Linked DNA regions of Homo sapiens. The protein of the gene in region 6 purifies or fractionates together with the protein of the main gene of each other region. This does not show direct contact. Each region holds a gene or a part of one and is shown on either strand. Other genes may lie near its edges. The genes, in order: ERGIC1, ATG4A, ANTXR1, ERI1, VPS54, SYN1 and DGCR8.

What was found.
Region 1: the proteins of SYN1 (region 6) and ERGIC1 purify together in Homo sapiens (affinity purification with mass spectrometry; one large-scale study listed by BioGRID and IntAct). This does not show direct contact.
Region 2: the proteins of SYN1 (region 6) and ATG4A purify together in Homo sapiens (affinity purification with mass spectrometry; one large-scale study listed by BioGRID and IntAct). This does not show direct contact.
Region 3: the proteins of SYN1 (region 6) and ANTXR1 purify together in Homo sapiens (affinity purification with mass spectrometry; one large-scale study listed by BioGRID and IntAct). This does not show direct contact.
Region 4: the proteins of SYN1 (region 6) and ERI1 purify together in Homo sapiens (affinity purification with mass spectrometry; one large-scale study listed by BioGRID and IntAct). This does not show direct contact.
Region 5: the proteins of SYN1 (region 6) and VPS54 purify together in Homo sapiens (affinity purification with mass spectrometry; one large-scale study listed by BioGRID and IntAct). This does not show direct contact.
Region 7: the proteins of SYN1 (region 6) and DGCR8 purify together in Homo sapiens (affinity purification with mass spectrometry; one large-scale study listed by BioGRID and IntAct). This does not show direct contact.

What each region holds. Positions count from the first base shown.
Region 1 is NC_000005.10:172,928,251-172,931,750, reverse strand, and holds part of ERGIC1 (endoplasmic reticulum-Golgi intermediate compartment protein 1), read right to left. Parts: intron 1-3,500. UniProt on the Homo sapiens protein: Possible role in transport between endoplasmic reticulum and Golgi.
Region 2 is NC_000023.11:108,098,278-108,101,777, reverse strand, and holds part of ATG4A (cysteine protease ATG4A), read right to left. Parts: intron 1-3,500. UniProt on the Homo sapiens protein: Cysteine protease that plays a key role in autophagy by mediating both proteolytic activation and delipidation of ATG8 family proteins.
Region 3 is NC_000002.12:69,180,679-69,184,178, forward strand, and holds part of ANTXR1 (anthrax toxin receptor 1 isoform 1 precursor), read left to right. Parts: intron 1-1,107; coding exon 1,108-1,203; intron 1,204-1,814; coding exon 1,815-1,982; intron 1,983-3,500. UniProt on the Homo sapiens protein: Plays a role in cell attachment and migration. Interacts with extracellular matrix proteins and with the actin cytoskeleton and thereby plays an important role in normal extracellular matrix (ECM) homeostasis.
Region 4 is NC_000008.11:9,009,397-9,012,896, reverse strand, and holds part of ERI1 (3'-5' exoribonuclease 1), read right to left. Parts: intron 1,356-3,500; coding exon 1,145-1,355; intron 1-1,144. UniProt on the Homo sapiens protein: RNA exonuclease that binds to the 3'-end of histone mRNAs and degrades them, suggesting that it plays an essential role in histone mRNA decay after replication.
Region 5 is NC_000002.12:63,960,429-63,963,928, reverse strand, and holds part of VPS54 (vacuolar protein sorting-associated protein 54), read left to right. Parts: intron 1-1,485; coding exon 1,486-1,871; intron 1,872-3,500. UniProt on the Homo sapiens protein: Acts as a component of the GARP complex that is involved in retrograde transport from early and late endosomes to the trans-Golgi network (TGN).
Region 6 is NC_000023.11:47,617,058-47,621,080, reverse strand, and holds the start of SYN1 (synapsin-1), read left to right. Parts: upstream 1-1,223; 5' UTR 1,224-1,352; coding exon 1,353-1,729; intron 1,730-4,023. UniProt on the Homo sapiens protein: Neuronal phosphoprotein that coats synaptic vesicles, and binds to the cytoskeleton. Acts as a regulator of synaptic vesicles trafficking, involved in the control of neurotransmitter release at the pre-synaptic terminal.
Region 7 is NC_000022.11:20,083,241-20,086,740, reverse strand, and holds part of DGCR8 (microprocessor complex subunit DGCR8), read right to left. Parts: exon of another isoform or gene 1,469-3,500; intron 1,055-1,468; 5' UTR 778-1,054; coding exon 58-777; intron 1-57.

The DNA.
Region 1 (3,500 bases), on a different chromosome or scaffold from region 6:
TGTAAATATATAGGAGAATTATCTGGAAAGATGCCCAAGGAACCACGGGCAGCTTTAGCTTCTGGGGAGGAAGGCAGGATTTGAGAAAGATCCCATTTCATTGTACATCCTCTGACATTGTCTGAATAGTTTTACTTTTAAAACAAACTAGGTTTCAGTATTAAAAAGAAAAGAGCCTATCAACCAGAAAAACTGCACCAATGAAGCACTGATGAACTGAGAATGGGGAAAGAAATCAACGGCAGATCAGTTCTTCCTGGATGGGGGAGCTGCTGAAGGCAGGGATGGAGCCTTACTCAACTCTGTGTCCCCAGAGCCCCGTGCAGGGCCTGGTACCAAGTGGACCGTGGCAAATGCTTACTGAATGAATGAACGGATGGAAGGATGATTGGACAGGGGCATGAATGAAAGCACAGATGAATCAGCTGCTGATAAGCGTGAGGTAACTGGAATCCAATGCTGGGCTGATAGAATGCTGGCCCAGAGCTGCCAAATATCACTCAGGAAAGGTATGAACTCTCCTGGGCCTTCTGGGATGCTTACAGGAAGCTCATGGGCCTTCCACAATCTCGGGTCACGGACTACAGAGCTAAAATAACACAGAAATTTAGGCCTGTGGGTTCTAAGCCTGGTCGCAGAGTCGAGTCAGTCCTCTTCTGTAAGAAGGCTGGGAATGCAGACAGCATTCACTGCCCTGACACTCCCTCCCTGCCCCTTCCTGCCAAAGCCATATCTCAGTAAGCAAAGGAAGTGCTTCTTGAATTGTTTTGAGTAGGTTCCTCTGAAAACCCGAGAAAAGTCCTGCAGCCGCAGAGCCCAGTCCATGAAGACTCCAACATCCCTCTGTTCAACCCTGTAATGGTTCTCAGATGTCAGAAGCAGTCGAATCATTTGGAATAAAAAGACACCTGGACCTCTTTCCAGGAGCATCCCGCCAAATGGGTCAAGGGTGGAGCTCAGAATTTGCATTTTTAAAACAAGAGCCCAAGACCACGCTTGATAGTGGTGTCCAAACGCCCATTGCCCTAGGTTAAAAACTTGAAGGAATGAAAAAGTGAATGCCTTATCAAAATCACCCCTGTAATATTTCTTGTTAAAATTTGTACAAGGCCGGATGTGGTGGCTCACGCCTGTAATCCCAGCACTTAGGGAGGCCGAGGTGGGAGGATCACTTGAGGTGAGGAGTTCAAGACCAACCTGGCCAACATGGTGAAACCCCATCTCTACTAAAAATACAAAAATTAGCCAAGCCTGGTGGCACACACCTGTAGTCCCGGCTACTAGGGAGGCTGAGGCAGGAGAATCGCTTGAACCCGGGAGGTGGAGGTTGCAGTGAGCTGCCACTGCACTCCAGCCTGGGCAACAGAGCGAGACTCCATCTCAAAAAAAAAAAAATTGTACAAAACACAGGTGATCACCAAGGACAAAACAAAAAATCACCATAAATTCACCATCCTCAGAAAACTATGGTTCACAGTCTCACATATAAACTGCCAGACATGTTTATACATATATTTGTATTTTCCTAAAATAGGACCATACCGTATCTTTTTTTTTTTTTTTGAAACGGAGTTTCACTCTGTCACCCAGGCTGGAGTGCAGTGGCACGATCTCGGCTCACTGCAACCTCCACCCTCTGGGTTCAAGTGATTCTCCTTCCTCAGCCTCCTGAGTAGCTGGGACTACAGGCGCCTGCCACCACGCCTGGCTAATTTTTTGTATTTTTAGTAGAGATGGGGGTTTCACCATCTTGGCCAGGCTGGTCTTGAACTCCTGACCTCGTGATCCACCCGACTTGGCCTCCCAAAGTGCTGGGATTACAGGCGTTAGCCACCGCGCCCAGCCATCTTTTTCTAAGAACTGAACATCATGATCAACTTTTCAGGTCTAAGACACAGAACATAAGCTCTGCAGAGTTTGTTTTATTCATCTCTCTATCCCCAGAACCTAGCCCAATGCCCAGCATATAGTAGGTGCTCAATAAATCTTTGCTGCCTGACTGCCAGTAAGGTCCTGACACACCTCGCTCATCTTGGGCAGTTACCATGCTCAGTCAACCCCCTATGGCTGGACACTGACGTGGTTCCTCATTTTCAATTTTATAAACAATGACCTAATGAACATTATTTTCCTAGATTTTTGTACACTCTCTTAATTATTTCCTTAGCTTACTCTCCTATGAGTACAATTGATGACTCAAAGGCAATGACCATTTTTAAGGCCTTTGATACAATTTGCCAAATGCCCACTGGAGACACTGCAGTTAATTACACCCATGTGGATTCCTTGTGAGCTGACCATTCCTAGAGACTGCTGGCTCCAACCTGGTCTAGGCCAGCCCACATTCCCTTCAAGCTCACTCCTCCTCCCCTACCCGCAAAATCTTCTTACAGAAAAATTCAAACCTAAAACATAGGGAATTGTATAATGGACTCCCACGTACCCATTTCCCAACTTCAGCAATTACCAGCGTATGGCCAATCTTGTTTCATCCCTATCCCGCCACTGGAGTGGGGCCCAGAATCTGCATTCTTAAAACCAGCAGCCCATATATATGTATGTGTGTGTATACTTATATACACACACACACACACACATATATATATATGACAGCCCATATTATGTGTATACATATACATGACAAGCTGGTTTCATTCCAGTTATATCATTCAGGACCAGTTAAACAATTCAGTACCACAATACAAGATACAATTTGATATAGGAAAGTTTCTCCTTAGATTCTGCCCTAGGGGATCTCGTTCCTGAAGTTAGCTGCTGACGATAATGAAGAGAACGGCCAACATTTATTGAGCACTCACAATGTGGCAGGCCGTGTACTAAACTCTGTACACGCATCTCATTAATCCTCATAGCAAGGCTTAAGGTGGAGAGGATTCTTCCCACTTTACACATGCAGAAACTGAGGCTTAGCAGAGTTAAATGACTTTCCCAAGACCACAGGGCTGGGAAAGAGTGGAGGGGGACACTGGAGGCCGAGGTCCTCATGACCGCACTCCACCACCATCTGGCAGGAGCTCTTCCATAGTGGCCTCCAGGCCTCTTATCATCGATCATATACCTACTATACCCTGGGTACAGGGCTGGGTCCTGGGGACAAAGCAGTGGGCAAGGCAGAGTGCCATGTTATAGCTGGCGCAACAGCCAAGGGCAGCAGATGACTGGGAGAACAAGGTGATTTCAGAGAGTGGTCTATGCTAGGAAGAAAAAACAGGTTTGTCCTTAGGAGTGAGGGTTACTTTAGATAGGGTGACCAGTGAGGGCTTCTTGGAGACGGTGGCGTTTGAACTGAGACCTTAATGCCAAGAAACAACCCCCATAGCAAGACCTGGGCACAGAGGGACCTACAAAGGCAACGGCCCAGTGCCAGGGACTGAGCTTGGGAGCTGAGGAAATAAAAGCCAGCCCTTCCCCAGCTGTCCATTGCTTGATCTCATGCTTTTTTCTCTCCACTTGAGCCAGCCTGAGATAGCTTTCGCCAC
Region 2 (3,500 bases), about 60 Mb from region 6:
AGGAAAATAGTAGTTGCCAGGGGGTTGGTGGGGGGTGGGAAATGGGGAGTTGCTGCTCAATAAGCATAGAGTTTCAGTCATTCAAGATGAAAAATTTCTAGAGATCTGCTGTACAACATTGTGCTTATAGTTAACAATATTGTACTGTACACTTTAAAGTTTGTTAAGAACTAAATCTCCTGCTATGGTTTTTTACTGTGATAAAAAAAATACATGACATGCAGCTAAAGCAGTGCTGAGATGGAAATTCATTGCACTAAAGGCTTAACTTAGGGAAGAAGAAATGTCTGAAATTAATAATCTAATTTCCCACCCTAAGGAACTAGAAAAGTAAGAGCAAATTAAACTGAAAGCAAGCAGAAGTAAGGAGATAAAGAGCAGAAGTCAATGAAATTGAAAACTCAAAATCAACAGACAACATCAATGAAACAAAGAGGTAGTTCTCTGAAAAGCCTCATAAAATTCACAAACCTTAAGCAAAACTGACAAATAAAAAAGATAGGCCACAAATCATTAATATCAGGAATGAAACAGGAGATATTATTATAGACCTTGCAGACACCAAAAGGGATTACTACAAACAAATATGCATGTATAAAGTTGATAATTTTGATAAGCTGGATAAATTCCTTGAAAAGCACAAACCACCACAACTCAATAGAAATTAGATAATTTGAATAGCTTGGTAACTATTAAGAAAATTGAACATATAATTTTAAAACTCAAAAAAAAAAATTCTTCATTGAAACCATCTGGGCCTGAATGATTTCACTGCAGCATTCTACCAAATACTTAAAGAAGAATTAACACTCATATTACACAATGTCTTCTAGAAAATAGAAGAGGAGGGACTACTTCCCAACTCTTATTATAAGGCCAATATTGCACTGATACCAAAATCAGACAAAGACAGTACCAAAAAATTAAATTGCAAGCCAATATCATTCATGAATAGAAGCAAATATCCCCAGCAAATATGAGCAAATATAACATATAAATTATACATCGCATCCAAATGTGTTTTATCCAAGGATGCAAGGCTAGCTCAACATTTGAAAATAAATTAGTGTAATCCACTGCATTAGCAAACTGAAGAAGAAAAATCACAAGATCATATCAATTGATGCAAAAAGTATTTGGCAAAATTCAATAGTTATTCATGATAAAAACACTCAGACAACTAGAAATCAAGAGGGAACGATCTAAACTTCAAAAAAAACTACATTATAGTTGATGCTGAAAGACTGACCTCTTCTTCCCTAAGACTGGGAACAAGACAAGAATTTAGCTCTCACCACTGCTATTCAACATAAAACACAGAGTGGAAAGGAAGAAATATCACTGTCCCTCTCTGCAGATGACAAGATGGTCTACATAGAAAGTCCTAAAAAACAATGAAAACAAAAGAAAAAAAATTAGAAAAATACCTTTTAACCCCCTAGAACTAATCAGTGAATTCAGCAAGGTTTCAATATGCAAAACTATCATACAAAAATCATTTATATTTCTATATACTAGCAATGAATACATGGAAACCAAAATTCAAAATAAAATACCATTAATAGTCACTCCAAAAATGAAATGGTTATGTATAATTCTAACAAAACATACAAGATTTCTATGCTGAAAATTGAACAGTGCTGATAAAATAAATAAAAGAAGATCTAAATAAAGGGAGAGACATATGGTGCTCATGGATTGGAAGACTCAGCATAGTAAAGATGTCAGTTTTCCCCAAACTGATACACAGGTCTAATACAATTCCTATCAATATCTCAGCTAACTTTTTTCAGATATAGGCAAGTTTATTCTAAAATTTATAGGGAAAGTTAAAGGAACAGGCAATATTGAAAACAATAAACTAGGAGGAATCACTCTATCAAATTTTAAGATTTATTATAGAGCTACAGTATTCAACACTGTGTGGTATGGCAGAGGGACACATACGTAGATCAATGAATCAGATTAGAAAACTCAGAAATAGATATACACAAGTACGGCATACTTATATTTTACAACAGTGCAAAAGCAATTCAATGGAGCTGAAGTAACTAGATATCAATAATCCAAAAAAATTAACCTTGACCTAAACTTCACATTTTATGCCAAATATTAACTTAAAATGGATCATGGACTTGAATGTAAAATGTAAAACTATAACATTTTCAGAAGAAAATCTAGGAGAAAATATTTGAGACCTACGACTTGGTGAAGACTTCTTAGATGTAACAACAAAAGCACAATCTATAATAGGGAAAAAAATCAATAAGTTGAATGTCATCAAAATTAAAAGCTCTTTCTCTGTGGAAAATCCTATTAAGATGAAAAGACAAGCCACAGACTGGAAGAGAATATTTGCAAGCTACATATCTGACAAAGAACTGGTATCTAGAATACATAAAGCACTCTGAAAACTCAACAGTAAAACAAACAATACAATACAATTAGAAAATGGGCCAAAGATATAAAGAGATATTTAAATGAAGAAGATATGGGGATGACAAATAAACACATGAAAAGATGTTGAACTTTATTAGCCATCAGATAAATGCAAATTAAATCAGTAATATATCACTACACACTTATCACAATGGCTAAAACTTAAAAAAAAAATAGTGAGAATACCAAATGCTGGAAAGGATGTGGAGATACTGGATCTCTCATACCATTGCTGGTGAGAATACAAAATGGTACAGTCACTTTGGAAAACTAGTTTGTCAGATTCTTTTAAAATTAAACATATATTTACCGTCCCACCTTGTAATTGCTCTCCTGGGCATTTATCTCAGAGAGATGAAAATTTCCATCTACACAAAACACTGTACTCAATGTTAATAAGAGTTCTCTTCGTAATAGCCAAAAACTGGACATTTAAAAATGTCCCTTAATAGATGAATGGTTAAAAAAACTGTGGTACCTCCATGTCGTGTAATATTTCTCAGCAATAAGAGGGAATGAACTATTGATACCAATTTGAATGAGTCTCAAATGTATTATGCTGAGTGAAAAATAGTGGAAAAGGTCACATACTTTATGATTCTAAAAATTAAATCATTTTAATTATATATAAAATTCTTAAAATGACAGTTATAGAAAAGGAGAACAAATTAGTATTTTTCAGGGGTTATCAATGGTGGGGGTAGGTGGTGGGTGTGACTATAAAGAGGTAGCACAGGAGAGATGGAATATTTCTTGATTGCGATAATGGTTAAACAAATCTACACATCATAAAATAACATAGAATTATACACACGTATCATTCCAGTATCAATTTCCTGGTTTTGATATTGTATTATAATTATGTAAAATGCAATGATTGAAGTAACTCAGATGAAGATTATATGGGGCCTTTCTGTACTATCTTTGCAAATTATTGCGAGTCTCTTATTCATAATAAAACCCTTTTAAAAAAAGAAACCACTTATAAAGCAAACAACTTAAAACAAGAGTGTGGAAGCTAAAACTCAGGGAGTAAATATAAAGTGCTTTATTATAACAGC
Region 3 (3,500 bases), on a different chromosome or scaffold from region 6:
ATTCTAAAGACTGGGAATACAATTGTAAGCATGACAAACAAAAGCCTCTGTGGAACGTACGTTCTAGTGTGGAGAGACAGATATTAAGTAAATATCAAGCCATGATGAGATCCTTAACTAAAAATAAAACAGATTGATGGAATGAAGAGACCGCGGCTACTTTAGAAGAAATTTCCAGGGGAGGTTTCTCTGAGGAGTAATATGAAAATCCATCCATCAGAAGATGGGGTGGGGGAAGTGCTTTCCTAGACAAGGGGACAAGGGGACACTGTGCACAGGCCCCAAGACAGGAATTTGCCCAGAGTATTTGAGAGAGGGCAGGCAGGCTGGAGCTCAGGAGGAGGGGGGCACATGATAAGGAAGAAGGCCAGAAAGGTGAGCAAAGGCCAGAACACACAGGGCAGAGCTGGCGTTTGCACTTACTCTGCTGCTTTGTGGAGAACAGATCATAGGTGAGTCTTAGGGCAGCAGGAGGCCAGTTGGGAAGCTACCACAGTGTCCATGAGCAAGTGCATGGGGGCTTGGGCCCAGGATAGTGGTGGTGGGGATGGAGAAGTCAACAGATTTTAGATCTTTAAGTAGTAGCAACAGAACTAGCTGGCAAGTTGGGACAAGTTGGGGAGAGGCAGTAAAGAAGAGAGAGGCAGTGGGGAAGACTACAGGAGGAGCATGTTTAGGGTAGGGAAATCAGGACATCTCTGCTGTGGTGTTGTTGAGATGTTTTTTAGCCCCCAAATAATGTGAATGTCAAGTGAGCAGTTGGAGTTCAGAAGCATCAGGGCTGAAGATGTAAAGTCACAAGTCATTAGCATGTAGGTGGGGTTAGATGCGATTCCCACAAAGGAGTAGAGCTGTAGAAGAGAACAAGAGAACAGGACTGTACCACAAACTTACCAGGTAGCACTGCTTACATTCCCACTCTACAGATAAGGAAAACAAGCTTAGGTGGTTTCAGTGATTGGCCCAAGGTTCTAGGAAACAGTAGCACTGGGATTGCACCCAGGCAGTCTGACTCTATAAGCTCTACTCCTAATCACTTGGCTGTAGTAGGCAGGTCCACACAGCAGTGCTGTTTTGCTTCCTTCATGTGCCACAATTTCTCTGCAGGAAGAAGATGATGATGGTCTGCCTAAGAAAAAGTGGCCAACGGTAGACGCCTCTTATTATGGTGGGAGAGGCGTTGGAGGCATTAAAAGAATGGAGGTAAGAGGACAGCTTCATATACACTTATCTATGTGCTGACTACTCCCATCGAGGTACCAGCCGGGCCTGACCCTGCTTAGCCTCTAGATATCAGGCATGCCCAGGGCAGTATGGCCGTAGACCACACTGATGACTCAATGTCAGAAACCCAAAGCAAATTGCTGAAAACCTCCTTGAGGTCTGGTGGGGATATGGATTGTAAGGCAGACGGATGGAGAGATAGGAGGGACAGCCTTTCACTGTGCGTTTCCATGTCTTGCCCACCGTGAGTCAGAGCAGGTCACACATCAGCTCAAACGTCCTCGTGATTTCTTTTCTCACTGGAATAAAATCCAAAGTTCGTACCTGAACCTGCAAGGTCTTTGCATGTGCTGTCCCCGCTGCCTGGACAATTCCTCCCTAAATATCCACCCATGTGGCTCAGCTCTCTGCTCCTTTGGTCCTCCCCTTTTCTCTTTTTCCACAGTTTCCCTCTTCCCTGGCCCTCAAAACCCAAAGGAATCCAGGGTTGGGTAGCATTCACATTGCAACTCATGCATGTATTTGTCATTCTCATTCTCGAGGGGCAGCATATTTTGTCATTTCATTTCATTGTATTTTGTTTATTTTAGGTTCGTTGGGGAGAAAAGGGCTCCACAGAAGAAGGTGCTAAGTTGGAAAAGGCAAAGAATGCAAGAGTCAAGATGCCGGAGCAGGAATATGAATTCCCTGAGCCGCGAAATCTCAACAACAATATGCGTCGGCCTTCTTCCCCCCGGAAGTGGTACTCTCCAATCAAGGTGTGTCTCTTTACTCAAAAAATCTATCATCAGTCCTGATAAAACACTTACATAGTGAAGAATCAAAATCTTTCCACATGATAAAATCCCAACCTAAAACCCAGCTTATCACAGGGGAACAATTATCTAAAATTATGGACTTGAAAGTACTAGTAATTACTTTGTCAATTTCCACATAATCTGGGTTGAAAACTAGGCTTTTTAAAAATCACCGTGGTGCTCACTTCTGCAGCACATATAGTAAAACTGGAACAATATAGAGAAGATTAGCATGACCCCTGGGCAAGGATGACATGCAAATTCGTGAAGTGTTCCATATTAAAAAAAAAAAAAAAATCACCATGGCAAGGTACTGGAAAAAGCATGGACTGTGAGTCAAGTAACTTGGGTAGTAACCCCAGAGAGTGACTATAAATTTCCATAGCATCTCATAACTTCACTTAGCAGACAATCTACTATCTAAGAAAAATGGCAGCCTTCTCCTTAATGCTAATCTCTACTCCTTTTGCCATAATATAAGCCCATTCCCTTTTATTTGCGCCTCCTGCCAGTGTATCAGGGCCCACCAGCAAATCTCACTGGTCATGGATCTAGGACTCACTCTTTCTGGTTGTAAGCAAATCTTTTTTCTCCACCATCTGTCTTTCCCCCACACCTCCAGATCTTAAAATCCTCTTTGGTTTATTGGGAAGTGTAAACCGTTGGAGGCAGTTAATGTTTCCTAAAGGCCTCTTTTTTATTTTCTATTTATTTATTTTTTGAGACAGGTTCTCACTCTGTCACCCAGGCTGGAGTGCAGTTGTGTGATCTCTGCTCACTGCAACCTCGACCTCCCAGGCTCAAGCCATCCTCCCACCTCAACCCCCAAGTAGCTGGGACTACGGGCACGCACCACCACACCCAGCTAATTTTTGTTTTTTTTTTTTTTTTTTTTTTTTTGAGGGACGGATTTCACTATGTTGCCCAGGCCTGTCTTGCACTCCTGATAAAGCAGTCTGCCCACCTCGGCCTCCCAAAGTGCTAAGATTACAGGCATGGGCCACCATGCCCAGCCTGAAGGCCTCTTTTCTATTCTTCTTGGTCCAAATGGCTTTGAATTCACATGATTCAGTTAACACCTTCAATCTTTAGCCATGCCCATAAACATCTGCACTATGCCACTTGTCAGAGAGCACTGGAAAATTATAGCTGAAAAGACTCTAGACATAATCTGTCCCCACTCTCTGATTTCATACTGAGATAGGCAAAGTCCTTGTTCTGCTGAGGTCTGGAAAACAAGGCCCCCAACTCAGGGCTACAGACTCCAGTTTCAAGCTGCAAACAGAACCGAACCAACTCCAAAGCCTCAAGTCAAAGACTCAATAGAGCCAGCTCCCATCACCATCCATACACATACACACACTCACACACACACACACACACAGCCTTACCCCCCTTCCAATAGCAACAAAGATTATTTTCATCATTCGCTGAGTTAATTTGCTAATTTTGGATCAGGGCTTCTCCAACAAATCAAAA
Region 4 (3,500 bases), on a different chromosome or scaffold from region 6:
GAGAGAATGGAAGAAAAGGAAAGAGATAAACATATAAGTACCTATAACTTAAGTGAAGAATTTTCCCAAAAAGAGGAACAAAGAAATGCAGTAGCTGGCAGTGAAGTGGGATGAAGTTTTTACACAGTGTGAAAAATATAACATGTTTTTGTGTAGTGGGAGCAATATAGACAAAAGCAATAAATCATAATGTCCAAATGAGGGAGAACTGCTACAGTAACGTCCTTGAGTAAGAGAGAAGTAAAATCTAGTGACTTATGCAAGATTATTTGCCTTCATAGCTGCCATTTTTCCTTCTAATTTACTGACCTTCAATCTGCTTTGGATAAGAAAATTATAGAAATAGGCTAAGACTATAACTAAAAGAGATTTTGAATAGCACTAATAACCTATGCATTTTAATTCACAAAACCTTTTTATACTTACTCCCAAGTGGGTTGGTAGCAACTGAGGATATCACAGAAGTGACTTTTGGAAAGTTGAGATGTTAGGATATTCTTGCTCAGATTTTATAAGGTAAACAGTATTATTTTAGGGAATTCCTACTAGACTTTCTTAACTAATAAAGCACTGACAAGTATCTAAAGCACACATATTATTTGGCTTAGAAACCAGGGTTATATGAGTCATTTCACCCTTAAACTTTCCACCAGAGAGAGAGGTTCAAAAGTCATTTTTGTAAATTATCATTCTTAGAGATCAGAGTTCACACTAGGCCACAGTGGTGGTTATCAAGCCTGACCGCATATTAAAACCAACTGAAAAGCTTCAAAAAAATGCTGATGTCAGAGGCCCTATCAGAGAACTAAATTAGAATCTCTGGGACTAGGGCCAGGCATCAGTATCATTAGTGTTTTCTTTATTTTTTTACTTACCAGGAGATTCTGATGTCCACACCCAGATGTTCTAAGCAAATGGAAAACAACATTTTAACTTCCGCTACTGCAAAAAGAAAGCAGTAGTCTCTAAAATTGCTTTGTTACAGCTTTTCTATTAATCAAGCTGATATAAAGTTCATGGCAAAGAAAAAACTTACTTTAGAAGTCTAATTCTGGCTAAAAAGCAAATGAGGTCCTCCACATAACCAGTAAACACCAGAATAGTTGCTGCTAGAAATACAATTAAAATACAAAAATTCACTTACTATTTCTAAAGTATGCGTATTCAGTAAAACAACCGGAAATTCAATTATTTCATGTACAAACTCAGGTGGGTTTCCTTCTTCACAAGTGGCTTCAAAGTCAATAATACAAATGTAGTCATAATAACTGTCAGCAAAATTGCTCTCTTTCAGCATCAGCTTCTGCTTCTTATAATAGTTTTTCAGTCTCTTCTTTAGAACATCCTTTACTCCTCTAAGTAGAAGAAGAAGACTAGTTACACTTAGGTAAATTCTACAGTCAAGAATCAAAACTCTCACCTGCTGGCACTGGGCTGAACACTGACAATCACAGCGAAATTTAGCAAATGCTAGCTAAAATAAATGTAAGAAAAGCAAGACTCAAAGCTAAGTTAGCAAAGAACTAATTAAAATAATATGTTTATTACAACATTAACATTTTCCTTCACAAGTCTTTTTTTATTTTAGTAGTATATAACAGTATTTTCTCCAACATATACTGGTACTTCAAACCATAAACACTGTCAGCATATACTACCAACACAGTCGTCATACTGCCTTATATACTAAGATAACATATATGATACAAACATTGAAATTAATATAAAATTATTCCACTGGCCAAAATATAAACTTAAGAATATAAAAATTTGGGTTAAGTTGAAAATATCGTATTATCTCTTTCCTTTCTTTTGGCTTTTGTAGGTTAGTCAACTCAAAAGATTCATATGAATATGAAAGCATTATGAGCCTAGCATATAAAGGTGAATGTCTGTTGGCTACTTAACAAGGAAAACTCAATTAGAATACACTCTAAGTAAACTGTCCAAAGGAGCATTATCACACTAGTAGGTTCTTAACTAGAAATAAGTTTCTTAATTTATCATGGGTAGAATATGATTTAGGGGATTTCAATATTATAGGTAGCTTTAAAATATACATTCCACAAATGGAGTAGTGGGGAGGAGAGAAAGGTCATCCTAACAGATAACAGTGATCAGGTGACTTCATTCTTTAAACAATATGTATTTTTCCAAAAAATTAAGTTGCAACCAGCATTCAGGCTTCCTTCAGCGTTATATAAATGAATCCTATATTGGCCTGCAAATATGAAATGGAAGTAAAAATAAAAAGATCTAAATTATAATTAATGTGTAGTGCCAAGTAAAGTATCATGTTAACTGATTAATGACTATTTAAAAAAAACCTTTTTAGTCTTTTATTTTCCTTTCTAAAATACAATTAAGCACTGAAAAAAATCCTACCCATGAAAATAGTAATAATCAACCAGTTAGCTTTTTTAAGATGAAATGTCTTAATATTGTTTCTTTGCTTGAGATTTTCAAAATTATCAAGACCTACGGAGAAAATCCTTAACCTCTTTCATATTAAGGCACTGTGAGTGACCTCTGTGTCATGTGACAGCTTTGGATTACTTTCTTTTTTTATCTTTTTATTGGTTGTTATTGTTGTGGGGTGGGAGGTGTGATAGGGGGAGAGACTACATTTACCAGAGTTGTCTGCAAAGCTAATGGCAGGACAAACATACAACTAGTTGCTCTGGATAGAAACCTGCTATCTTTAACATCTCCTTTGCTCTTCCAAATATTCACCATGTTTGTCAATTCTAACTCAGAAACATATTCAGAATATGATTCTCTCTAATTCTTTCTGCTATGGCTCTCATTAGCTTCGTTGAGCATGGCAAATGCCTCCATTACCACAACACTTCGATTCATTCTTTACTTTACTTGAGAACTGAGCACTAACACCAATTTTCTGCTTAAATATCTTCAGTGGCTCCCTTCTGCTTACGAGGTAAAATGCAGACTTCAGCATAGAGTTCCTTCACAACTTGGCTACAACCTATCATTTCACTATCATTGTCACATGTTCCTGAGGTATACTGTGTACTGCAGACAAAATATACTATAAGCCATGGCCTCAACCAGCCAGATGGCTCACGTCTATAATCTCAGCACTTTGGGAGGGGGGTGAATCACTTGAGCTGGAGCTCGAGACCAGCCTGGGCAACATGGAGAAACCCTATCTTCACTAAAAATACAAAAATTAGCCAGGCATGGTGGTGCATGCCTGTAATCCGAGCTACTCAGGAGGCTGAGGCACGAGAATCGCTTGAATCCAGGAGTCGGAGGTTGCAGTGAGCCGAGATCACACCACTGCACTCCAGCCTGGCGACAGAGCAAGACTCTGTCTCAAAAAAATAAAAAATAAAAGGCATGTTCTCAATACACTTTTATGTCCTATAACTTTGGTTGCACAACAGGTGAAGAAAAGGCAAGATCATGTTGCAGAAACCATACAAACTGGAATTAGAAAAGTTTCTGTTATTTTTTTGCCTGAAATACCCTCCCCCTCC
Region 5 (3,500 bases), on a different chromosome or scaffold from region 6:
TTTACTTTCTAGCAAAATTCTTTATTTTATTATGGCCCTGTTAAACAGTCCACAGATTGGCAGCAGCATATAAATCACATTCTGGGTAGCACTGTCCTAAAGTTATCTATTCTCCATTTACTATTCTGGGAATTGAGTCCATGTTACCTTGCAATTTACCCTAGTATATTTGTGCCCATTTTGCTTTTTTAGTGAATAAATGAACAGCCATATTGAAGATGAAAGAGCAAAAGGGCATAAACTCAAGATTTAAACTGTGGAAAAATTTCTTGTTTGTAACCTATTTAGATATTGTAAGATTATTGAAGGAGCATTATTGAAGATATGAATGATACTCTGTGTTTCCTTAGGGAAACAGATTTGATGACCAAATAGTCTCTTCTAATCTTATGAGACCTAAATGTTGAAAGTTCATTAACCCTTTGAAACTATGAATTATCCCAAGACATTCAGAGATAATGCCCGAAGTCTGAGCTGTGGGTTAAAAAATCTCAAAGTAAAAAAATGGGTGAATAATGGAAAGATAATATAGCCAAAAAAGGCATATGCAGTTAGAAAGGAAGAAAAGGCAAAACAAGTTTTAGAAGTCCATATTTGAAATTTAGAAAGCATTTTAAATATATATTACCATAAGAATTAATCTTGGTAATGCTACTAAAAAAATATATATGAGCTAATTGTTTAAGGTATTTGTCGAACTTTTAAGAGGAAAATTCATTGGAAATAAACTGAATTTTACAAATTGATAAAAGAATCACTTTTGAAATGTAAAATAAGCAGCCTGAAAAAAATCCAAATGAATTTTAGTACCTTATCTATAATTTGTGACTGAACCATCAGTCTATCTTGGATTATTCAGCATTTTGAGGCAGAATGGTATAATAGAAACAGCTTCAGTTTTTCAGTCAGAGATATACCAACATTTTAGTTTTGCTACTTAGTAACTACATGACTGTGTTTCCTCATCTGTAAAATGATAATAATACTACCTATATTTCAAGATTGTTAAAATTAGAAAAATTAGATGTGTATAAAATACCTGTGCCTAATCCATAGGAGGAGGTCAATAAATGGAAGGTGTAATCATCTATTTAGTCAGATAAATGATGTGCAATGATATTGGGGGCTAAGGAGATCATTCTCTTTCTCTCAGATCTTAGAACATCTGAAACTGGAATTGTAATTTGAGATGTCTGTGGGGTACTCTTTTAGAAAGCAGTTGGTGTTTGGAAGGTGATAATGACAGGAACAGAGGAGGAAAGTAAATGACCTTGTACTCTTTTGTCTTACATTTATATCTTTGGGGTGTACCCTTTATCTTCCTTCCATTTTGTTGTGCCCAATTTCAAGGATCTCACAATCAAACAATTCACACAATGGAATTTAAAGTATATGTAGAAATCTTTTATCATTGTCATAAAGTATTTGGATAATCAAGGAAGGTATGCTCATAGTACTTCATATTTTTTTTCCTTCTCTTTTAAGCTGAGCCATTATCTGGATATTGTGGAAGTAAACATTGCTCACCAGATCTCTCTACGTTCAGAAGCATTTTTTCATGCAATGACCTCTCAACACGAGTTGCAGGACTACCTCAGGAAAACTTCCCAGGCTGTAAAAATGCTTCGAGATAAAATTGCACAGATTGATAAAGTAATGTGTGAAGGATCACTCCACATTTTAAGACTGGCACTTACCAGAAATAATTGTGTTAAAGTATACAATAAGCTGAAGTTAATGGCCACTGTACACCAGACTCAGCCTACAGTACAGGTGTTATTATCTACTTCTGAATTTGTTGGAGCATTGGACTTAATAGCAACAACACAAGAGGTTCTACAGCAGGAACTTCAGGGCATTCACAGTTTCCGGTATGTTCATTAAGTAAGCCACTAGAAATAATGTTAGAAATTTTTAAAGGATAAAATTGAGCATGTAATGTTAAAAGTGTGAATATATTCAAAGTTAAATGGATATTTTTTCTTCCAGATTGATCATTTGTTTAATAATGTTATTCTGATATTGTAGTATTAGCAAAACAAAAACCATAAGGAATAATATTTTCAGAGACATTTGGATGGAGAAGCAAAATTAAAATTTCTAGGAGATGAGATAAATGCAAGGCCAGTCACAACATTAACATTTTGAAAGTGTTGAAATAGCTTTGTGTCACAATGGTAGGTCAAGGTGGAGAGAATACCAGCATATTTAAAATTAAGTTTGTGTTGAAAGCCTTTAATAGATTTAAAATTGAATAATTATTAAAATTCATTTCTGATTTGCAGTCTGTTTATCAAATTGCAAAAGAAATCCACATGGTGATAGAAAAGACCCAATTTCTCCTGTTATTATTTTGAAAATACCTTAGGTTTTAAATATTTTATATGAAATCATTCCAAAGTGTTTATTTTATAGACTAATTGCAAGCCATCAAAATTTCGTTCCATTAAGCAGGCTTGCAGTATCCTTGTAGAAGTTCATATCTGCTGGGAAAACCATCCAAACCACGTACTAGTAAGTGACTATAAAGTTTTATGGAAGATGTGCTCTGTAACTTAATCCATTATGGAAAAGTTAGCTTCAAAATACATTTATTTTAATTGAATTATAAATCTTATTGACTGAAGATATGTAATTGGAATGTTTAGGATATATTTTTAAAGCTGAAACCAAATTTAATTAGATGAACAATTGATTGATTCATTCAGTTAAGGTATGGCTGTTGAGCACCTATTACATGTCAAGTACCAGACAGAATGAATACTGGGAATATAGTCATGAATGAAGTAGAGATGTTCAGTGCTCTAAAAGTCTCTACAATTTATTTGGCATGGGGAAGGAAGCAGACAAATTACTGCATAGTTATGATATAGTGTAATATAGTATGATGAATGGAAAGATTGCTGTGGAGCTCTGACCTTAGGGGTGGAACCTAATCCAGACTTGGATGGTTAAGAAAACGTTCTGAGTCACAAACTTCTTTGAGAATCCATTGAAAGGTACTGTTGGACCATCTTTCCACAAAAATATACCTGTACATAAAATTTTGCAATCAATTTTGGGTGATTCATGTTTTTTTGAAGTCTACTTTGAATTCCCCAGCATGGAACCCAGGGCAACTAAATTATTTTTAATTTTTCCTTCACCTTTGAAATTATAAGGATTTATCTTTGAATTTGTATGTCGTATGTATTTTTTCAATAAATGTCAATTTTGTCATTGCCTTAGAGAAATGGATTTCTATAATGACAGAAGCTGTGTTTTTAACTTATCACTTACTGTATAATATCATGAGTGTTGATGAATATTGGGAGCCAGTATCCCATAGATAGTACAGAGCTGAGAAATAGAATCAAAGATTGAATGCCGCCTTGGCAAACACAAATTCTCAAATTGTTCTAATTTTTACCTCAAAGTTCATGCAGTTTACTTTTACTTTCCTTGACTCATAAGTTTATGGTCAATACTCATGAAAAGTAATTTTAAGAAGAGGGTTGGAT
Region 6 (4,023 bases):
TGCTTGGACTACCTCATTTGCTCATATGCAAACATTATTTGGTACCTACTGTGTGTGCACCATGGGATGGGCCTGCCTCTGTGGAAAGTTCTTGGGTGCAGGGGGAGACAGCCATGGGCACTGATGACATCAGGTAGTTATCGTGAGTTTTGGCGGTGTCCAGAGCAAAGGGATGGTGGCGTATATACCAAGTGTGTTCTGGTGTGGGGGTGGACACGCACCAGGGCTAGGGCTGCAGAGAATGTCTGTGTTGCAGATCTAGGTTTCTCCATGATCATCGGTGGGAATGTGTTTTGTCTGCAAGTGTATGCTCATATGAGTTTCCCTGGGTCTCTGTGTGTCAGTGTGTTACCTGTGTGTGTGGGGGTATGGGTGTATGCATGCATGTATGTAACATGCCCATGTGTGTTACTCTGGACTTGTATGTCTGTATGTATACCTAGATTGGCGTGTGTTCTGTCTGTACATGCCCTCGTATGTTTCCTCACTTTTGTGTGTGTTTATATGTGTGTCATTTCTTGTGTGCCTCCAGGCCCCCCTTGCCACCTTGGGCAAGGGTGTGTACACCACCCAAGTGTCCACCTCCGCTTGTCTGATGCTGTCTGTGACGCCCCCGCTCTCTGCCTAGCTGAGCCTGTGTGGATGTGGGAGACTAATCTCCCCGCGGGCACTGCGTGTGACCTCACCCCCCTCTGTGAGGGGGTTATTTCTCTACTTTCGTGTCTCTGAGTGTGCTTCCAGTGCCCCCCTCCCCCCAAAAAATGCCTTCTGAGTTGAATATCAACACTACAAACCGAGTATCTGCAGAGGGCCCTGCGTATGAGTGCAAGTGGGTTTTAGGACCAGGATGAGGCGGGGTGGGGGTGCCTACCTGACGACCGACCCCGACCCACTGGACAAGCACCCAACCCCCATTCCCCAAATTGCGCATCCCCTATCAGAGAGGGGGAGGGGAAACAGGATGCGGCGAGGCGCGTGCGCACTGCCAGCTTCAGCACCGCGGACAGTGCCTTCGCCCCCGCCTGGCGGCGCGCGCCACCGCCGCCTCAGCACTGAAGGCGCGCTGACGTCACTCGCCGGTCCCCCGCAAACTCCCCTTCCCGGCCACCTTGGTCGCGTCCGCGCCGCCGCCGGCCCAGCCGGACCGCACCACGCGAGGCGCGAGATAGGGGGGCACGGGCGCGACCATCTGCGCTGCGGCGCCGGCGACTCAGCGCTGCCTCAGTCTGCGGTGGGCAGCGGAGGAGTCGTGTCGTGCCTGAGAGCGCAGCTGTGCTCCTGGGCACCGCGCAGTCCGCCCCCGCGGCTCCTGGCCAGACCACCCCTAGGACCCCCTGCCCCAAGTCGCAGCCATGAACTACCTGCGGCGCCGCCTGTCGGACAGCAACTTTATGGCCAATCTGCCAAATGGGTACATGACAGACCTGCAGCGTCCGCAGCCGCCCCCACCGCCGCCCGGTGCCCACAGCCCCGGAGCCACGCCCGGTCCCGGGACCGCCACTGCCGAGAGGTCCTCCGGGGTCGCCCCAGCGGCCTCTCCGGCCGCCCCTAGCCCCGGGTCCTCGGGGGGCGGTGGCTTCTTCTCGTCGCTGTCCAACGCGGTCAAGCAGACCACGGCGGCGGCAGCTGCCACCTTCAGCGAGCAGGTGGGCGGCGGCTCTGGGGGCGCAGGCCGCGGGGGAGCCGCCTCCAGGGTGCTGCTGGTCATCGACGAGCCGCACACCGACTGGTAAGCCACTGCCGCGGACGTCTCCCGTGGGCCTGGGTCCCCAGATCGTTCTTCTGCGAATGAGCAATTATCGAGCGCCGCTTGTGTGCCTGACACCTGGCCCTCTCACCTAAATCTTTTTCCTTTAAATTATTAAGCTGGATGCTTCCTCTGTGCCCCGCCCTTGTCGCCCCCCTCCGCCCCTTAAACCTTGATGGATCCAGGGAGCAATTATCAGGCACCTGCTGCGTACCTGTTCCCTACTACCCCTCCCCCAAAAGTCTTTGGCTTCAATATATCCTATGAGCCTTCGAAAACCGAACGTGTCCTTCCTACCCTCCCCAACCCTTGCCCCATAGGCCTTGTCCTCTAATGGATCTTGTGAGCACTTATCTAGTACCTGCAGTATGCCTCATCCAAGAGCCCTTCCCCAAGGCCTTTGATTTCAATGAGGTTTGTGAGCATTCTTTGAGAGCCTGATACTGTCCTGTTCTCCTCAACCCTTGCCCTGAGGCCTTCTCTAATGGGTCTTGTGAGCATGTGTCCAGTCTATGCTATGTGTCCCACCCCAGCTCCGTCCTTAAAGCCCTTTTAAACTATTTAGTAAACATTGAGTACCTGCTGTGTATCCCACCCCAGCTTCTCTCCAAAAGCTTTGCCTTTCATGGATCCTGTGAGTTTTGATTGGATGCCTTCTCTGTGCCCCAACTCCAAGCCCTCTCTCTGAGGGCCTTTTCTCCAAAGGATCTAGGAAGCATTTGTTAAGTGCCTGATACGTGCCGCACCCCCAAACCCCTTCTCAAACAAATCATTTTCCTCCAGTGAGTTCCATGAGCAGTTTTGAACCTTCTTTGTGTGACTCATCTTCAGACCGTCTCCTCAAAGACCTTTCCCTACAGTGGATCTAGAAAACATTTATTGAGTGCCTCTTGTATCCCCCGTTCTCCAGCTACTTCTTCAAAGACCTTTCCTTTGGTGGATCCATCTAGCATTTATCAACTGCCTGCAGTGTGAGCCTTCTCTAAAAGTTCTTTCCTCCAGTGTATTCAGCAAGCATGCATTGACTGGTGCCTGCTGTATACCCCACCCTCAAACCCTTTCTGCAATACCCTTTCCTCCAGTGGCTTCAGTCTGCATGTATTGAGCACTTTCTGCATGACCCAACCTTAGACCTCTCCATAAAGGCCTGTGCCTCCAGTTAATACAGTGCTCAGATATCTGGCACTTGCTGTGTGTACCATTCCAGTCACTCTTTCCAAAGACCTTTTCTTTTAATCACTCCTTGGAGTATTTATGGAGCACCTGCTGTGTACCTGATTGTGTGCCTTCTTCACAAAAGCCTTTTCTCCTATGGATGAAGAATCGAGCTCCCATAGATCAACTTTCTGCACTCCCATTTCCCCTCCCCATAGGACTTTTCCTTCAGGGATGCAGTGAGCCTTGATCAGGTGACTATATGTCCATCCCCAGCCCCACTCCCCAAAGGCCTTTTCTTCTAATGGATCCAGTGAGCATTTATTCCTTGTCTGTCATGTGCTCCATTTTAATCATCCTCCCCCAAAGACCTTTTCTTCCAATGGCTCCCCTGAGCATTTATGGAGTGTCTTCTGTGTGTTCTGTATATTCACACCTCCTCCCCAGAATTGTTTTCTTAACAGTAGATCCAGTGAGCACATATGCAGGACCTGTTGTTTTGGGGAGTACATTCTTCTTCCTTACCCCTAGGAGAGCCTGTTCCAATCACAAGGCCTCTCCCAAGGTCCTTTCCTGTGATAAATCCAGAGCTGAGTTTATAATGATCACCCCTTTCCCACTCCCTTCAGTACCCCTAGGATTCCCTCTACCAACTTTAATTCATACCCCCAAAGGGCTTTTAGTCTATTTAAGTAACACTTACTTAAGTAAACACTTTTACTTAATAGTTTTACTATTGACTTAATTTACTAAATAAATTTAGTAAATTTACTAAATTTACTATTTACTTAATAGTTTTACTATTTAAGTAAACACTTATTGAGCACTTACTGTATAAGTCACTTTCAACTTCCTCTTTCCAAGTCTCTGGAAATCCCTGACCCTGCCTCAAGAGCTCTCTCTCTAGGGGTCTACTTCAGCCTAAATGTATTGAGTACCAGCTGTTTACTGGTTAGATTACCTCTCCCCCAGGAGCCTTTACCGAGTAGCCTTTCTCTCCATTCAGAGCAATTTATTCATTCTGCAGATATTTATTGCATCCTTTCCATGAAAGTGTGGGAGGCATTTATTATGCACCATTATATACTAGGAATAACCCTTCTTCAGCTCCCCTTCCTTCT
Region 7 (3,500 bases), on a different chromosome or scaffold from region 6:
CCAAATCTCTCTTTGGGTTTTGCTAAGAGCCCTCTAGAGGAGGGGCTGCCAACATACCTCGTAGGGGAAATTCAAGGCCTCTTCATCCACTCTGTCTCTCTGAACGATTGCTTTAGCCGTGAACCCGCCTGCTCCTTCTTCATCTAGCTCCAAATTGTCAGTAAAATCTTCTAACTCATCGAGCACTGCATACTCCACTCTCTTTTCCTGATCCAGCTCATTCTCCTCATCCTTCTTATCAGCACTCTCACCCCCTATGCCTACCCCGTCACCAACACTCCCGCCAAAGGGACAAGCATGCACGTCCCCACTGACAGGGCTAAGGAGCAGACCGCACTCCGCCCGCACGTCGCGCTCTGCTCCTGTGTACAGCACCTTCCTGTCCTTACTCCTGCAGCTCTCGGTAAAGCTCACGCTAATCTTTACATCCTTAAGCAACTTAAGGTCAGGGGAGAACTTCCGGACCGCAGGTGCGTGCCGGGCGGTGCGCGGGCTGTGGCCACTACAGTTCGGGTCTATGAGGAGGCGGCCCTTAGAGAAGGATCCTTTGGAGAGAAGAGAAGCTCCGTAGAAGTTGAAGGGGTCCTCAGCAGGGAGTTCGGACTGTCCATCACCACCAGAGCCAACGTCCATTACCTCTGCACCACTGGACGTTTGCAGGGGAGGTGGTGGAGACTGCTCACGGGGCAGCGCTTGGAAGGGGCGAGCTCGGCTCTCCATCACCGCTTCTCCTGCGGGCCCACACGGGAGCGGAGAGGGGCTCTCATCTGTCTCCATATTAAAAGCGCTTAAGACTAGTTTACAAGACCAGAGTTTTACAAGCCCTCACATAAATCTACACAGCTAACATGCACAAGTCCGCTGAGACCCGGGCGCGTCCTGCCGCGCTGTGCGCTGGCGGCTTAGTCAAGCTGGCCACATTGCTCTTTTCATTAATGTAGACAGCTTTTAGAACCACTGCCTCAATTATTGGAAATCACAATGCACTCAGCTTAAGTGACTGGCGACTAAGCGAGTCTGTCTTCATGCCGGAGTGGCACCTTTCTTCTTCTACCTGCAAAGAAATTTAAAAATATCGTCACAAAATGACAGAAACCTTCCAATTCCCTGGTACCAAGTTAAAAGCCAAGCACTATTAACAGCATAGTAAAGGGCTTCAAAATAATATTCCCTAAGAGGACTTTTTAGGCATCAAAACAAACTAACCTTACTTTTATTCTTCAGAACCTGAATTATAACTTAAGTCCAAAGTTAAATATTTTGTTAATGCCCACTTTAATTCCTACTTCAGAAACACAAAAACTATATAATCATAAGGCTCAAAAAATATTTTAAAAATTTACACTAAACTCCACCACAGCATTCTTCTAACTCAGATAAGCAAGCATGCAGTGGGAGGCACCCTTTCTGGAACACACAGAAGGCGCGTGGCCTCCCTCAGGCCACCAGAGCACAGCAATCCACTCACCTGCAAGGGCTGGGTCAGTCAGAGGGCGAGCGCGAGACCCTCAGCTCAACTCTGCGGCACTAGGGGCCTCAGAGGCATGGCCAGGCGCTCTGCTACCCAGGGACCCCAGGGCTCTCCTGGGCCCACAGGGTAGCACGTGGACGGGGACAGTGATGCAGCGTGCTGAGGTCACCAGAGGTGGCAGCATAGTTCTGTTCCCGATGGAGGAGAGGGGTGGGTGGCTGTGGGGAAGGGACCTGCCAGGATTTGGGGTGGGGAGCCACAAGAGACAGCTGGAGCCGAGGCACAGAGAGGCCTGGGTGCCACCTGCAGCCCGTTCCGCCCTGGGGACAATAAGGAGCCACTGAAGGTGAAGCGACTCTCATGCCACAAGTAGGTTCCTACTTGAGAGGGGAGACCCACAGCTGTGCCAGGCAGAAGCAACTGCATCCAAGGCACGGGGACAGTCCTCCAGGCCAGAGGACAAAGGTGTGAAAGAGGCCCTGGCAATGGGCCAAGAACAGTGTCACAGAACTGACCGCACTTGTTGACCCAACGGAGGTGGATAGCAGAGAAAAGAGGGAACTAAAGACAAGGAAGGACACCCAAATTCCAGCATGCAGGCAGGAGCCTGGCGAGGAGAACAGAGGGGACCTCCAGGCAGGCTCTGAAGGTGCCGAGGCCACAACTCTGGAGCCATGACTGGTCCAGATACGGAAGGCCAGGACGCACTGAGGAGGTAGTCGCCAAACCCACAGGAGGAAGGCCACCCAGAGATGAGGGTTAAGGATGCAACTCTAGGAAGCCTTACTACAGAGGAAGCATGAAGAAAGGGACAACATGAAGCAGGGAAGATGGGTCTGAGGGGGCAGCCAGAAAACCCTGCATCAGAGCAGAAGGAACACATGCAGACACACGCACATGCACACTCCCACAACGTGCACAGGAACACGCATGCATGCACATGCGTGCATACCAGTAAAGATGCACACATGCAAACCGCACTGCATGACCTAACATCCTCCCAAGATTCCCGGAAAGAACAGGAGATGCAGACATCACACATTTAACAAGGGACAAGGCATGGTGGATGTACTTCGAAGGGGACACAACATGAAAACCAGAGACTAGTTTAGGTTTAATCAATACATTTAACAACTATCCACTGGCCATCTACTCCGAGGAACGCACTATATGGACAAGAGACAAGGTCACAGGGCCTGGACACACTGGCAGGTCAATGACCACTGCACTGTCACCCCATTTCCTGGATTCTAAGATGTCCTAACATTTCTGAATCTAATGGGAATTTCACACCGTATGTTCCCAAAGATGTGTCCATCAAAGGTGCTGAGGATCCAGGAAACACAGCACAGAGCTAACAACTGACTATAAAGTGCTGAAGACGCTCAAGAGGCTGTGGGCAGCAACCAGGCAGGCATGAGGAACACTAAGTGGGGTGAGGTCAGTCTCCTGGCAACCAAGAAAGACCATTAGAGAAAACAGACCGAGGGGTCAATGCGCCCAGTGCCACAGATTACAAGGAAGACCAGGGCCACACACCTCAGAACCTGGCAGTCCCATAGAGACCCTGGTGAGTCAATCCATGATTCTGGGACACAAAAAGCTACATGAAGAAGCCACAAGGAGCAGGGGATTAGAGACCAACAGTGGGACGGAATGGGGAAGCCTGCTACCACAGAAGGCGAAGAAGCAGCTAGAGTAGACGTTCCAAGCAAAGGTGCTAATGGGGCCAAGCGGCGGCACTGAAGAAATGCACAGCAGGAAAGCCTGGTGCCTTACAAGTGAGTGAGCTCCTTAGGAAAGCAGGAAACCTGCCCAGCCCCAGACCTCAGTGGTGGGCAGTCCTGGGCAAGTTCCTTCCTCCCCTCTATAAGCTTTCTCCATTCATCACACACACACACACCATCCTAGATGCTACAGACACAAGGTGGACAAAACCCTGCCCTACAGAGCTCACATTTTAGTGGGGGAGATGGACCGCTAACAACTAAGAAAAGCATGCACCCTGTCACATGCCAAGAAGTATTCA